Homo sapiens: one gene and its partners. The protein of the gene in region 1 purifies or fractionates together with the protein of each later gene. This does not show direct contact. Each region holds a gene or a part of one and is shown in the gene's direction. Other genes may lie near its edges.

Region 1 (3,749 bases):
AGGTCAGGAGTTCAAGACCAGCCTGGCACACGTGGTGAAACCCCGTCTCTACTAAAAATACAAAAATTAGCCAGGCGTGTTGGCGCCCATCTGTAATCCCAGCTACTCGGGAGGCTAAGGCAGGAGAATGGCCTGAACCCGGGAGGCAGAGGTTGCAGTGAGCCGAGATTGCACCATTGCACTCCAGCCTGGGCAACAGAGCAAGACTCCGTCTCCAAAAAAAAAAAAAAAAATAGGAAAATGTTTTACAGATTACTTGAATTTATTTTTGATTCCTCCCTTAAATCTTTTTGTTCTTTTTTATATTAATATATTATTATATCTATTATAATCTATTCTTTATATATACTAGTCTGCTACCATGGAAACAGCAGTGACATGATAATTTACATGTTTTCTTAGATGCTAGCACTGATTTTATTTTTATTTTTTGTTTTTTTCCATGTGGGTTGCTATGTAAGTTTGATTTCTAGTTTTTTCCATTTTGCTCTATGAATCTTGTTAAAAATAGCAGATAATGGCTTCTATCTATTATAATAAACTTGATGGTGTAGTAATTGTGTTTAATAGACATTTTTATAAGTTAAGTCTTATGTCTTGCTGGGTTTTTTTTTTGTTTGTTTTTGTTTTTCCCTTGAGACAGAGTTTCATTCTTGTTGCCGAGGCTGGAGTGCAATGGCGTGAACTCGGCTCATCACAACTTCGGCCTCCCGGGTTCAAGTGATTCTCCTGCCTCAGCCTCCCGAGTAGCTGGGATTACAGGCATGTGCCACCATGCCCGGCTAATTTTGTATTTTTTTTAGTAGAGACGGGGTTTCTCTATGTTGGTCAGGCTGGTTTCAAACTCCCAACCTCAGGTGATCCACCCGCCTCGGCCTCCCAAAGTGCTGGGATTACAGGCATGAGCCACTGCACCCAGCCATGTCTTGTGTTGTTTTATAAACTAGACTTGAACTAGAAACCTGGTTGCCATATATAAATCCAGTTTATATAGAGGAACAATTGCCAAGTTGTCATATTTAGATAGGTTTAGGAATATAGGGTGATAGCATAATGTAGGAATGTTTTAAATTGTGATTTGTTCCTTCAGCCCCTTAATTTAATTTAGAGACATTACACCATTTTCTCAGAAAATGAGAATGTATACTTGCTCTGGAAAACAAATTCTGACTTTTTTTTTTTTTTTTAGTATTTATTGATCATTCTTGGGTGTGTCTTGGAGAGGGGGATTTGGCAGGGTCATCGACAATAGTGGAGGGAAGGTCAGCAGATAAACATGTGAACAAGGGTCTCTGGTTTTCCTAGGCAGAGGACCCTGCGGCCTTCCGCAGTGTTTGTGTCCCTGGGTACTTGAGATTAGGGAGTGGTGATGACTCTTAAGGAGCATGCTGCCTTCAAGCATCTGTTTAACAAAGCACATCTTGCACCGCCCTTTATCCATTTAACCCTGAGTGGACCCAGCACATGTTTCAGAGAGCACGGGGTTGGGGGTAAGTTTATAGATTAACAGCATCCCAAGGCAGAAGAATTTTTCTTAGTACATAACAAAATGGAGTCTCCTATGTCTACTTCTTTCTACACGGACACAGTAACAATCCGATCCCTCTTTCCTTTCCCCACATTTCCCCCCTTTCTATTCGACAAAACCGCCATCGTCATCATGGCCCGCTCTCAATGAGCTGTTGGGCATGCCTCCCAGACGTGGTGGCGGCCGGGCAGAAGGGCTCCTCACTTCCCAGACGGGGCGGCCAGGCAGAGGCGCCCCCCCCCTCCCGGACAGGGCGGTGGCCGGGCGGAGGCGCCCCCCACCTCCCTCCCCGACGGGGCGGCTGGCCGGGCGGGGGGGCTGCCCCCCACCTCCCTCCCGGACGGGGCGGCTGCCGGGCTGGGGGCTGACCCCCACCTCCCTCCTGGACGGGGCGGCTGCCGGGCGGAGACCCTCCTCACTTCCCAGACGGGGCGGCTGCCGGGCGGAGGGGCTCCTCACTTCCCAGGCGGGGCGGCTGCTGGGCGGAGGGGCTCCTCACTTCTCAGACGGGGCGGCCGGCCAGAAACGCTCCTCACCTCCCAGACGGGGTGGCGGTCGGGCAGAGACACTCCTCAGTTCCCAGACGGGGTCGCGGCCGGACAGAGGCGCTCCTCACATCCCAGACGGGGCGGCGGGGCAGAGGCGCTCCCCACATCTCAGACGATGGGCAGCCGGGCAGAGACGCTCCTCACTTCTTAGATGGGATGGCAGCCGGGAAGAGGCGCTCCTCACTTCCCAGACTGGGCGGCCGGGCAGAGGGGCTCCTCACATCCCAGACGATGGGCGGCCAGGCAGAGACGCTCCTCACTTCCCATACGGGGTGGCGGCCGGGCAGAGGCTGCAATCTCAGCACTTTGAGAGGCCAAGGCAGGCGGCTGGGAGGTGGAGGTTGTAGTGAGTCGAGATCACGCTACTGCACTCTAGCCTGGGCAACATTGAGCACTGAGTGAGCGAGCCTCTGTCTGCAATCCCGGCACCTCGGGAGGCCCAGGCGGGCAGATCACTCGCGGTCAGGAGCTGGAGACCAGCCCGGCCAACACGGCGAAACCCCATCTCCACCAAAAAATACAAAAACCAGTCAGGCGTGGCGGCGAGCGCCTGCAATCCCAGGCACTTGGCAGTCTGAGGCAGGAGAATCAGGCAGGGAGGTTGCAGTGAGCCGAGATGGCGGCAGTACGGTCCAGCCTCCCCTCGGCATCAGAGGGAGACCCTGGAAAGTGGGAGACGAGGGAGAGGGAGAGGCAAATTCTGACTTTCTTAAATGTAGCTTTAGAAGTTTTAATTTATTTAGTATAATAAAAATAGGTCTGGATCTGTTACAATAGGCATATCTTAAGGTTAAGCAATATTAGGTTATTTCTTGTTATGACAGGGTATCATTGGCATTTTCTTAGTAAATAAAAGAATCTGTAGTGTCATCTTAAGGAATTTTTATATAGAGCCTTTCCTTAAACTTTTAATCTCGTATTTATTTGTTTATGTCATTTACAAGTTAAAATATTCTCCTCCAAGGTGGTCAGGATATATTTTGGGAGCTAGTAATATTGATAAACATTTATAAAACATTATTTAAGGTTATTACTATTGGTATTAGGACTAGTAGTTGATTGTAATTATCTATGTTTTTCCATAATCTAGGCTGATTTGCATTTGTAGATTTACAGAGTGTTTTTGGGGTGTTGTTTTTTGAGATAGAGTCTCAGTTGCCCAGGATGGAGTTTAGTGATGTGATCACAGCTCACTGCAGCCTCTACCTCACAGGCTCAAGCAAACCCCCTGCCTCAGCCTGGTGAGTAGCTGAGACTACAGGCACGTGCCACCACGCCTGGCTAATTAAAAAAAAAAAAAAATTTGTAGGCCAGGCATGGTGGCTCATGCCTGTAATCCCAGCACTTTGAGAGGCCAAGGCACACGGATCGCCTGAGGTCAGGAGTTTGAGACCAGTCTGGCCAACATGGTGAAACCCCATCTCTACTGAAATATGAAAATTAGCCAGGTGTGGTGGTTGTAGAGACAGGGTTTCGCCGTGTTTTGTAGAGATGGAGTTTCATCGTTTTCCAGGCTGGTCTTGAACTTCTGGCTTCAAACAATCCTCTGGCTTTGGCCTCCCAAATTGATGGGATTACAAGTGTAAGCCACCACACTTAGCTAGAATTTTTTAGTTAAATTATAACCCACTAATGCTTGGTTAAATTTGTCTTTTCTATGTATAAATATAATT
Region 2 (3,749 bases), on another chromosome or scaffold:
GATAATAAACAAATGTCACAAGTTGACAGCATCTTGTTGGGAAAAAGGACAAAAATGTTAAAAAATAAAGATAACAGAAAAATATATCTTATTCTCAGGAAAATCACTTCCAATGAAATGATTAGCATTTTAAAGTCCGTTAATAGTAGTTATATGCTTTTAGAAGTTATTTTGCTTTGTGAGTGTACTGTTTGGATACAGTCTGAATTTTGTCAACGATGACTTTAATACAAACTCTCCTGGGATGGTTTCAAAGAAGGTTAGTATTGGACATTGGTCACTTTCCCAGGCCTCAGCAGTAACTTAACAGCACTTCTTCATTTAGATTGAATTTACAGCCAGTATATTGTGAATATCTGCACACTTGAAAGGAAATGAGAATTATTTTGAAACAGTACTCTTTTGTTCAAGACCTTGTTCCCCTCCACCGGCAAGGATAATGAGAATAGACTTTGAAAGTATATATATCTAAACGAAATGTATGCAGCTGCAGCAAGCTTTTAACTATTTGAATACTAGTACTTTTGATATATATTTGTAGCCAAACCAAGTTGCTATCTGTTACTGTACTGCTACCACAGTCACAATCACAAGGCCCATTCCTTGAATGATCAGTTAGTGAATGTTAAAGGGTTATAAACTTAATTCACATTTACCCTAAATGAAAAAGGGATTTTAGTCCATTGTCCACAAAATCAAATGCATTTTAAGTCAAACAGAAATGGTTTCGGAATTACTGATACTGTGACTTCTATTCATTTGAAAAGGTAATTGGGAATTTTCTGTATGATTAACTAGGAAAATGAGATTAAAAATAGCGAATTTGGAAAATAGAAGCATAATGGGAAAGACTTGGAGAAAGTGGACTTTACAAATTTTGAAACAAGGAAAGTCATGGGTTATAAATTGGCAGAGATGGCAAAAAAATTTTCAGAACATCTTTTATCATAATTGCCTTTGCTGCTGGGGAGGAAGGAGAATCATGGATCCAAAAAAGATAATAAAGATTCCACTTTATACAAAGCCATGAGTTGTTTATTGATTTAAATGGATATATTTTTACTGAATGTGTAAGCATCAGTCATTTCTTTTCTCCTTCCTTTTATTGACTGGGCACTGCAGATCTTTTGGAAATATATTCTTAAATAAATTAAGACTTTTAAAGCTTTAACTTTTTAAAACTATTTTGTGAGTTAGAGTTGTTGAAAACATGCTTGTACTTCCTACTTTAAGCTGTTTTGTGGGCCATAGTTTTACTTTAAAGTGTTTCTCCTTTCTAAGGAGTTTAGCTGGATAGTAGAAATGTGTCTGATTATCTGATTTGAGGAGTCACTGATTCTAATGGTAGCTTCCTGTAGTTTTAAGGTACTGCATATTTCTGTAGTTGAGTGTGTTGATATGTGTTTCAGTGCAGTTTTTTAAAATAGAGATGGGGGTCTCAGTATATTGCCCGGGCTGGCCTTGTACTCTTGGGCTCAAGCGAACCTTTCAGCTTGGCCCACCAAAGTTGTGGGCAGTTTAAAGAAAAATTCTATCCTTTGCATATGAATTCAGATGAATAGTTTTGGTAGTTTAATTAAAATCTGGGAGATTAATGACTAATGATGGATCTTGATGGAGGGTGATTTTTAGATTGGATCTGCTTAATCTTAATGATAGCAAATGGTGTTGACTGATTGCTTAATTGTAAAGTGTGCTGGAATTTGGTAGCCTCCTTTGTTACATTCTAGAAGAAAAATTCACTTTTAAAAAGATTATGAGTTCATATCCTTTGTAGGGACATGGATGAAGCTGGAAACCATCATTCTCAGCAAACTATCACAAGGACAAAAAACCAAACACCGCATGTTCTCACTCATAGGTGGGAATTGAGCAATAAGAACACATGAACACAGGAAGGGGAACATCACACACCGGGGCCTGTTGTGGGGTCGGGAGGAGGGATAGCATTTGGAGATATACCTAATGTTAAATGACGAGTTACTGGGTGCAGCACACCAACATGGCACATGTATATATATGTAACTAACCTGCACGTTGTACACATGTACCCTAAAACTTAAAGTATAATAATAAAAAAAGATGAATATTAACAGTAAGGAATTGATAAGGACACTAAGAAGATCTAGAGTCAAAATACTGATTCAGTTATGGAAGATCTTTAAGCAATCATACCTTTCTTTAACTATTTGAATACAGCATCTTACCAAACTCTGTATAAACTGGCAACAACACAAGGGCTGAAAGCTGGAACCCCTAGTAAAATAAAGATGTCTGATCACTGTGGGAGAATTCTAATAATTAGCGTAAATGTAAGTAATAGTTTGGAACACTAAAACTAGAAGACAATGAGACTGAAAAAAGATTGTCGTAAAATATCATGACAAAGAAAATCTGATGAGATTTGATATAATCCAGGCTTCAATACAGCTAAAGAGGAGATCAAAATGGAGGATTGGCCAATTTATTTTTCTGCCTCTCAGCTGTATGAATGCATGACAAATATGTTGCAGAGCCCTTCAGTCCTTAAAACTGTAAAGAAAATTTTATTTTGTTTATATTCCACCTTAATTAAAAATATTTAATAAGGCATTGTAAGATTACACCTTTATCTATAATTGGGACTTTGATTTTAAAATGTGACATATTTACCTTCTGGACTTCATTTGCTCATAATCCTCCATATCAAGACAGAAGGTGTTTTTGGCCTCAAATATCAGTCATGTGGGTGTTCACTGATATCCTGGAGCCAATTATACTACTGAGATAACTCTTAATAGGATTATGTCTTTCCTGTGGTTTATAATTATTACTGCTTCCATTGCTTTTAATTAAAATGTTACACTAGTACATATGAAACATCTGCATTCAAACTCAACATATAACTTTTAGCCAGTTCACCATGAATACATATATATTTATATGTATTGAGGAATTAAGTACTTTTATATGAAGTTATTTATTTTGTATCTCCCCAAATCAAGCTTCCTTTCATGGTTAGTACAAAAAGAAAACATTGTATTTAAACAGACCTGGGTTAGAATCCTGGCACTATTTTATTTTATTTGTGTGACTGTGGTCAGCTTCTTTCTTGGACTGCCATTTCTTCTTCTGTGAATTGAATTTAATCCTATGTATTTCATGCAATAGCTATAAGGATTAATTGGAGTCACATACACAAAATGCTTCAGACAGCATTTGTCACATAAATATATGCTTTTTTAATTGGTTACACTTATTTTAAATGTTATTACTGCGTCTATCATGTACATTATATAAACATCAATTGGCAAGAATTTGTTTTTGCTCTAGTAATCAACTAGTGGTATTGAAGTCTGTTAGAATCTATGAGAAAGGGAGGAGTTAATGAAGTTAAAAGATTATGAAAGAGGTGCATTATAGATTTATAAATGTTGCATATATCTATTGTGAAAAAGTTACTGAATTAACATTTGTCAATATTATGAGGGAGATTGGGGAGTTTCTGAAATTCAGATCAATTTAAAGAGACCCATTTCATTTCATTTCTGTCTAAAAATATGTTTTTAGTACCTGTTGTACTGCGAGCCCACTGGTGTAAGTTTCAGATGGTACAAAGGAAGTATATGGCCTAGGTTTTGTTTATACATGACTATTCACATCTATTACGTAGGTTAATAAGATTCAAATCCAGGCTAGCCCCATCCTTTTTTTACTGCAACATACATATGGATTGATTCTTCTGTGTTTTTCTGAGTGTTTTTGAGACT
Region 3 (2,804 bases), on another chromosome or scaffold:
AAGTCCAAGGCTAAGCACACAATAACATATCCTGGGTGAATAAACCAGTCACCTTTTGTCAGACTTGTTGATTTTATTGGAGCTCCTCTATGATAAAGGCAACAAGGAATTTTGTAAATGGAATCTACCTTTATCCTTGAATTACATTTGCTTTACCTGACATCATTTTTCTCTGATCGCCACTCTCCACGGGTACATTGAATGCCTTATATATACTGCCATAATATCCTGTTCTACATCCTTCTATTAAAAGAACTTGTTGTATAACAAATGAGTAGATATTCATTGGACTCACCTGGTCCACCATTTATCCTATCACTAACCAAAATTATTATTATTATAGAATGGTGAATATTTTATTAAAGACTCAATCACAGTGCCAGCTGGAGACAATGGCTTATAAGGTTGTACTCATGCTAGAGGATGTGGTGGTGTATCCTCTGAACTAGTAACTAAGTATAAGCTTGTCTGGTGTCTCCCATATAAAAAATACAACAATCTTTGATATTTGTTATGAATGTTGAAGTGACTCCTTTTGTCATTACATCTAATGATCCACTCCAAATACTTATCTCTTGTCTCTGAGATTCTAGGTTTTTGCAGAATTAGTACCCAAAGGGAGAGTCTTAGCAGTATTCCATTTTACAATCCATCCTTCGTTAGAGGATGAGAGACTTCTATCTAGCCTTTTAGGTTGCCTGAGACCTTTAAAGAAACAGTCAAAAATTTAAAATTTAAAATGCGGCTACACTGTTGCATGGGGTAGTAAATCTTGACCTTAAAACTGGTATTTGTAAGAAAAACAGAAAGAATTCAGGGATCCCCTTTGATGGCTCCTAATTCTATACAGTCCTGTAAATATTCCTGAAGACTAACCAGGCGTGGTGGTGCACACCTGTAATCCCAGCTACTCCAGAGGCTGAGGAAGAGAATCACTTGAACCTGGGAGGCAGAGGTTGCAATGAGCTGAGATTGTGCCACTTCACTCCAGCCTGGGTGACAGAGCAAGACTCTGTCTCAAAAAAAAAAAAAAAAAAAAAGAAGAAAGAAAGAAAGAAAGAAAGAAAGAAAGAAAGAAAGAAAGAAAGAAAGAAAGAAATGAAGACTGCCACAACTTGGAAGCAACCAAGATGTCCTTCAATGAGTGACTGCATAAGCAAACTGTGGTATATTCCTACAGTGGAATATTATTCAGTGCTAAAAGGAAAAAACTATCAAGCCACAAAAAGATACAGAAAAAACAAAGACATTTTGCTAAGTGAAAGAAGCCAGTCTGAAAAGGGTACATACTGTGATTTCAACTATACGACATTCTAGAAAAGGCCAAACTATAAAGACAGTAAAAAGATCAGTGGTTATCTTTGCAGACGCCGCCATCGCTGTGAGCCCTGTACTATCAGCCATGGTCAACTCCGTCATCTTTTTTGACATCACCGTCGACGGCAAGCCCTTGGGCCGCATCTCCATCAAACAGTTTGCAGACAAGATTCCAAAGACAGCAGAAAACTTTCGTGCTCTGAGCACTGGAGAGAAAGGATTTCGTTATAAGGGTTCCTGCTTTCACAGAATTATTCCAGGGTTTATGTGTCAGGGTGGTGACTTCACACACCCTAATGGCACCGGTGACAAGTCCATCTATGGGGAGAAATTTGATGATGAGAACCTCATCCGAAAGCATACAGGTTCTGGCATCTTGTCCATGGCAAATGCTGGACCCAACACAAATGGTTCCCAGTTTTTCATCTGCACTGCCAAGACTGAGTGGTTGGATGGCAAGCATGTGGCCTTTGGCAAGGTGAAAGAACGTGTGAATATTGTGGAAGCCATGGAGCACTTTGGGTACAGGAATAGCAAGACCAGCAAGAAGATCACCATTGCTGACTGTGGACAATTCTAATGAGTTTGACTTGTGTTTTATTTTCACCACCAGACCCATTCCTTCTGTAGCTCAGGAGAGCACCCCTCCACCACATTTGCTTGCAATATCCTAGAATCTTTGTGCTCTTGCTGCAGTTCCCTTTGGGTTCCATGTTTTCCTTGTTCCCTTCCATGCCTAGCTGGATTGCAGAGTTAAGTTTATGATTATGAAATAAAAACTAAGTAACAACAACAACAACAAAAAAGCTCAGTGGTTGCCAGGAGTTTGGGGATGGGTAGGGAGATAAATAGTTCTGAAACAGGCGATTTTTAGGGGATTGAAAATACGTTGGTAATAATGTAATGATGGGTACATGACATTATGCGTTTTGCAAAACTCCTAGACCTGTACCACACAAAGAGTGAACCCTAATGTAAACTGGGGGTGGGATAAAGGTGACAGTATGTGAGAACTCTGTACTTTCTGCTCGATCTTTCCATAAAGCTAAAACTGCTCAAAAAATAAAGTCTATTATTTTGTTAAATGAAAGAAATTAACAATGACCATGGCACGCTCACACAAAAAGATTATCAAGGACATTTCTCTGTCAGGAATGAATATTTGGTCATCTCACAAGGCAAAACCCTGACTAGCAGAGGTGTTAGCTGAGGGCACATGGCCATAGATGCCAATAGTGACCTGCTGGCCACTTGCAGAAAGGAGAGCCTTGACATCCAAACACATTGTTTCTCTTGTATTGTCCTGTGCATACTTATGTATCTTAACAACTTTCCTTCTTTCCTCTCCATTTATCCCTCTTTTTAAAACAGGGCTTATTGAGGGTGATTAACTTAATTTTTAAATGATATATGGCAGAATGTCAAGAGAGTATAGTGAAGAACTTCGTAGAGGAATGGACATAACCCAGAATTCTTAGACTTAGAGT
Region 4 (3,749 bases), on another chromosome or scaffold:
GCATGTCTAGTTCATTTGCATTTTGGGCATTTCAGCTCAGCTGTCATCTCAGTGACCAGTTTTTATCTGAGGTAAGAAAATGAAAGGTTTTCATTCATACCCACCTTCTCTTGCTGTAATAGCTATCTGGTTGTGCCTGTAAGAGCCAACTGTGTACTCCAGGCAAAACCAAGTGGACCACCTTAGCCAAGAGGCTGAAGACTATTCAGACAATCAAAGAATCCTGCTTTCAGCAGAAGGCTGAAAACAATGCAGATAACTGAATGTTGTTTAGTGTTGAATTTGATAGGAAATAAAGGGATAGTGAAACTTAAATCTCTATGTTTTACAAGTTCTGAAATTTCCTTCTTGACCTTGAAATGAATCTAATACAACTCTAGCCTCAGATTGAGGAATCCTCCCTAATTTTGGCAGTCTTTAAGAGTCTCTAACGCAAAGTAATGACTACCTACTTAATATAATCCAGTATTTATGGCCGGGCGCAGTGGCTCACGCCTGTAATCCCAGCACTTTGGGAGACTGAGGTGGGTGGATTACTTGAGGTCAGGAGTTTGAGACCAGCCTGGCCAACACAGAGAAACCTGTCTCTACTAAAAATACAAAAATTAGCCAGGTGTGGTGGTGGGCTCCTGTAATCGCAGCTACTCGGGAGGCCAAGGCAGGAGAATCCCTTGAACCTGGGAGGCGGAGGTTGCAGTGAGCTGAGATCGTGCTACTGCACTCCAGCCTGGGTGACAGAGTGAGACTCTGTCTCAAAATAATAATAATCTAGTATTTATAAATGTTTTATATAGCTACAGAAAGTGCCTCCATTAATCTTGAAAAGTCCGAACTATTCATTCTTAGGGTTATCTCCATTAAGCTGGAACCAAATTAGTGAATACTTCTTGTAACTTTCCTTCTTTATGTTCAACTAGCATGAATCTTGATGGCTCTGCACAAGATCCTGAAAAGAGGGAATATTCTTCTGTGTGTGTGGGCAGAGAAGATGACATTAAAAAATCTGAAAGAATGACAGCTGTTGTCCATGATAGAGAAGTGGTCATTTTCTACCACAAGGGAGAATATCATGCTATGGATATTCGCTGTTACCGTAAGATTTTATTTTTCATTTGTAAAACTTTAAACCATGAAACTATCAAAATTTCAGTTTTTTAGTGACTGCAGGTAATATTCAATTCCTTTTCAGACTCAGGAGGACCTTTACATTTGGGAGATATAGAGGTATGTAAAATTAAATTTATTTTCAGCAAATTCAGCAAATAAATATATTCAAAAATAATTTATAATTGGTTTGAACTATATTTTAATGCTTTGAATATAATTCCAAGTATTCTGGGAATTCATAAGATAAATGAGAAATATGCTTATCTTTTGACCTAGCAATTATACTCTATATCTATTCTATGGCCATAATTGCACGGATGTTTAAGTATTTGTATAGGAATGATTCATTGTAGCATTATTTATTATAATGAATAATTGAAGGCAACCTAAATGTTTTAACAATCGGAAACTGGTTAAATAAATTATGATACAGCCATGCTGTGGAATAACTGTACCATGCAATCATTAAATTAATAAGGCAGATCTATATGGGTATGGAGAGATGTGAACAATGTATTTGTGACTGAAAAAAGCACGTCATAGGATGATAATAGTCTTATGAGATCTCTTTTTTCATCAAAAAGAATATTCACTTTTTACTGTATACACTGTGCATAATTTGAATTTTTAAAATGAGTATATATTATTTTTATAATATAACAAAAATATACAGTATAAATATATTTTTAAAGAAATAAACCACACTGTAGTCTTAACTGAGGAGGAACGGGGGAAGTTGTCTTTGCTTCCTTGGATTCCAAAACTAGTCACCTAATTTCTTGTTTCTTCATGAAATTGGTCTCTCTCTCTCTAACCGATGCAAAGTACAAGCTTGAACTTAGCATTCCACTCTCTCTACACTTGATGAGTGTACACACCTGTCCTCATGTTAAAGAACGTATGTGTGTTTATTTTTTCTATTTTTTCCCATTGTCCAAACCCACATATGTGAATCTTTGCTGACAGTTTTATGTAATGTAAATTATGAAAATGTGAATCTTTGCTGACAGTTTTATGAAAGTACAAATCAGTATTCCTGCACTTTTGGATATAGAGGGGAAAATGAAAGCACCCACTTACATGTGTGAGCTGATAATAGTTCCATAGAATTTTCTCCAGTTTCAGTCCATAATGAGAGCTTGAAGACCTTGCTCCTCAAACTGTTGTCCATAGACCAGCAACTTTGGTGTCACATGGGAGCTTCTTAGACATGCAGAATCTTGTCACCCCAACCCCTTAGACCTACTACATTTAAACAGAGAGACATGCATTGAAACAAGATCCAGGTGCTTCCTATGTTTTTTAAAGTTTGAGAAGCACTTCACCAAGACAGTTAAAAAGTTGAGAATTAACTACTTTGGATCACAAATTGCTCTTCTATTATCATATGCACTCATGCCTTTAGTAACTCCTTTTGAATTTATATCTGAACCTTACAGTTCTTCTAGAAGCTAGTGAAAATTCCTATAGAAGCACTTGAAGTCCTTGCCCCATTTCTGTCAAGGAGGCGACATTAACATCTAATAGATAACAGCACAGCTGCAGTCACATGGTTTAGTTGCCTGAGCATGTCAGTCTTCTGATAGAGCTCTAACTGGCTTTCTAATCAACTGTAAAAGAGCTTGATGACTCTTCTCAGATTAGGATCTGCTTTATGCTGAATAATTTGTACATAGGAGGAAAAAAAGAAAAGCTAACCTGTTTTTTTAACCTGGTTCTTCTGCAGCAGACTCTTCAGAGTCTATCAAGAACATTTGACATGTCAGAATATTAAATGAGTTATTCTCTTCCCCAGGATTTTGATGGACGACCGTGTATAGTTTGCCCCTGGCATAAATACAAAATTACTTTGGCAACAGGAGAAGGTCTGTACCAGTCTATAAACCCTAAAGATCCATCAGCAAAACCCAAGTGGTGCTCCAAAGGAATAAAGCAAAGGATTCACACAGTGACAGTAGACAACGGAAATATTTATGTGACTCTTTCTAATGAACCTTTTAAGTGTGACTCTGATTTTTATGCCACTGGAGACTTCAAAGTAATTAAGAGTTCTTCCTGATAAAAAATATATAGAAATGAAAAATGTTGTGTATGCTTGAAAACATTTTTAGAATAACTCTGCTTCAGTTTTAAAGGTGATGAAATTTTTCAACATAGGCACAACTGTTTAAAATTCACATACATTTGAGAGGTTTAAGAGCACACATACTTAGTATGATGTAAGGATTATCATCAGGATCAATAGAATACATTTTATCGAATCTTCTGGATTAATTAGAAACCTGAAGGTTATAGGTTTGGGATGTTCTGTTTAAGAAGGATAAAAATAAATTTGGAGTAAACAAATAATAGGTAAAAATTAAGGATTAGTAAGAAAAAATTTTTTAATTTAAAAAATTTAATTTTTAAAATAGGAAAAAATCCCTGTTTGATGTAGCAGACTTAATTCTGGAAAAGTTTTAGTATATACAAAGTAAACAGACTATATAATGAACTTCCATCACTCAGCTTTAACAGTTATCAGCATTCTTCCATTCTTGTTTTATTTATACCTCTGTGGATTTGCTACCTCTCCTATTTGATTGTTATTTTTACATTTTTAGGAAAGTTTAAATACATTGAAATGTTCACCTCTGAACTGT

The links.
Region 2: the proteins of QNG1 (region 1) and DPYD fractionate together in Homo sapiens (co-fractionation; one large-scale study listed by BioGRID). This does not show direct contact.
Region 3: the proteins of QNG1 (region 1) and PPIAL4G purify together in Homo sapiens (affinity purification with mass spectrometry; one large-scale study listed by BioGRID and IntAct). This does not show direct contact.
Region 4: the proteins of QNG1 (region 1) and RFESD fractionate together in Homo sapiens (co-fractionation; one large-scale study listed by BioGRID). This does not show direct contact.

What each region holds. Positions count from the first base shown.
Region 1 is NC_000009.12:83,946,534-83,950,282, reverse strand, and holds part of QNG1 (queuosine 5'-phosphate N-glycosylase/hydrolase), read left to right. Parts: intron 1-3,749.
Region 2 is NC_000001.11:97,914,520-97,918,268, reverse strand, and holds part of DPYD (dihydropyrimidine dehydrogenase [NADP(+)]), read left to right. Parts: intron 1-3,749.
Region 3 is NC_000001.11:148,481,851-148,484,654, reverse strand, and holds PPIAL4G (peptidyl-prolyl cis-trans isomerase A-like 4G), read left to right. Parts: upstream 1-1,352; 5' UTR 1,353-1,402; coding exon 1,403-1,897; 3' UTR 1,898-2,107; downstream 2,108-2,804. UniProt on the Homo sapiens protein: PPIases accelerate the folding of proteins. It catalyzes the cis-trans isomerization of proline imidic peptide bonds in oligopeptides.
Region 4 is NC_000005.10:95,653,144-95,656,892, forward strand, and holds part of RFESD (Rieske domain-containing protein), read left to right. Parts: coding exon 1-71; intron 72-917; coding exon 918-1,093; intron 1,094-1,189; coding exon 1,190-1,224; intron 1,225-2,187; exon of another isoform or gene 2,188-2,352; intron 2,353-2,805; exon of another isoform or gene 2,806-2,902; coding exon 2,903-3,166; 3' UTR 3,167-3,749.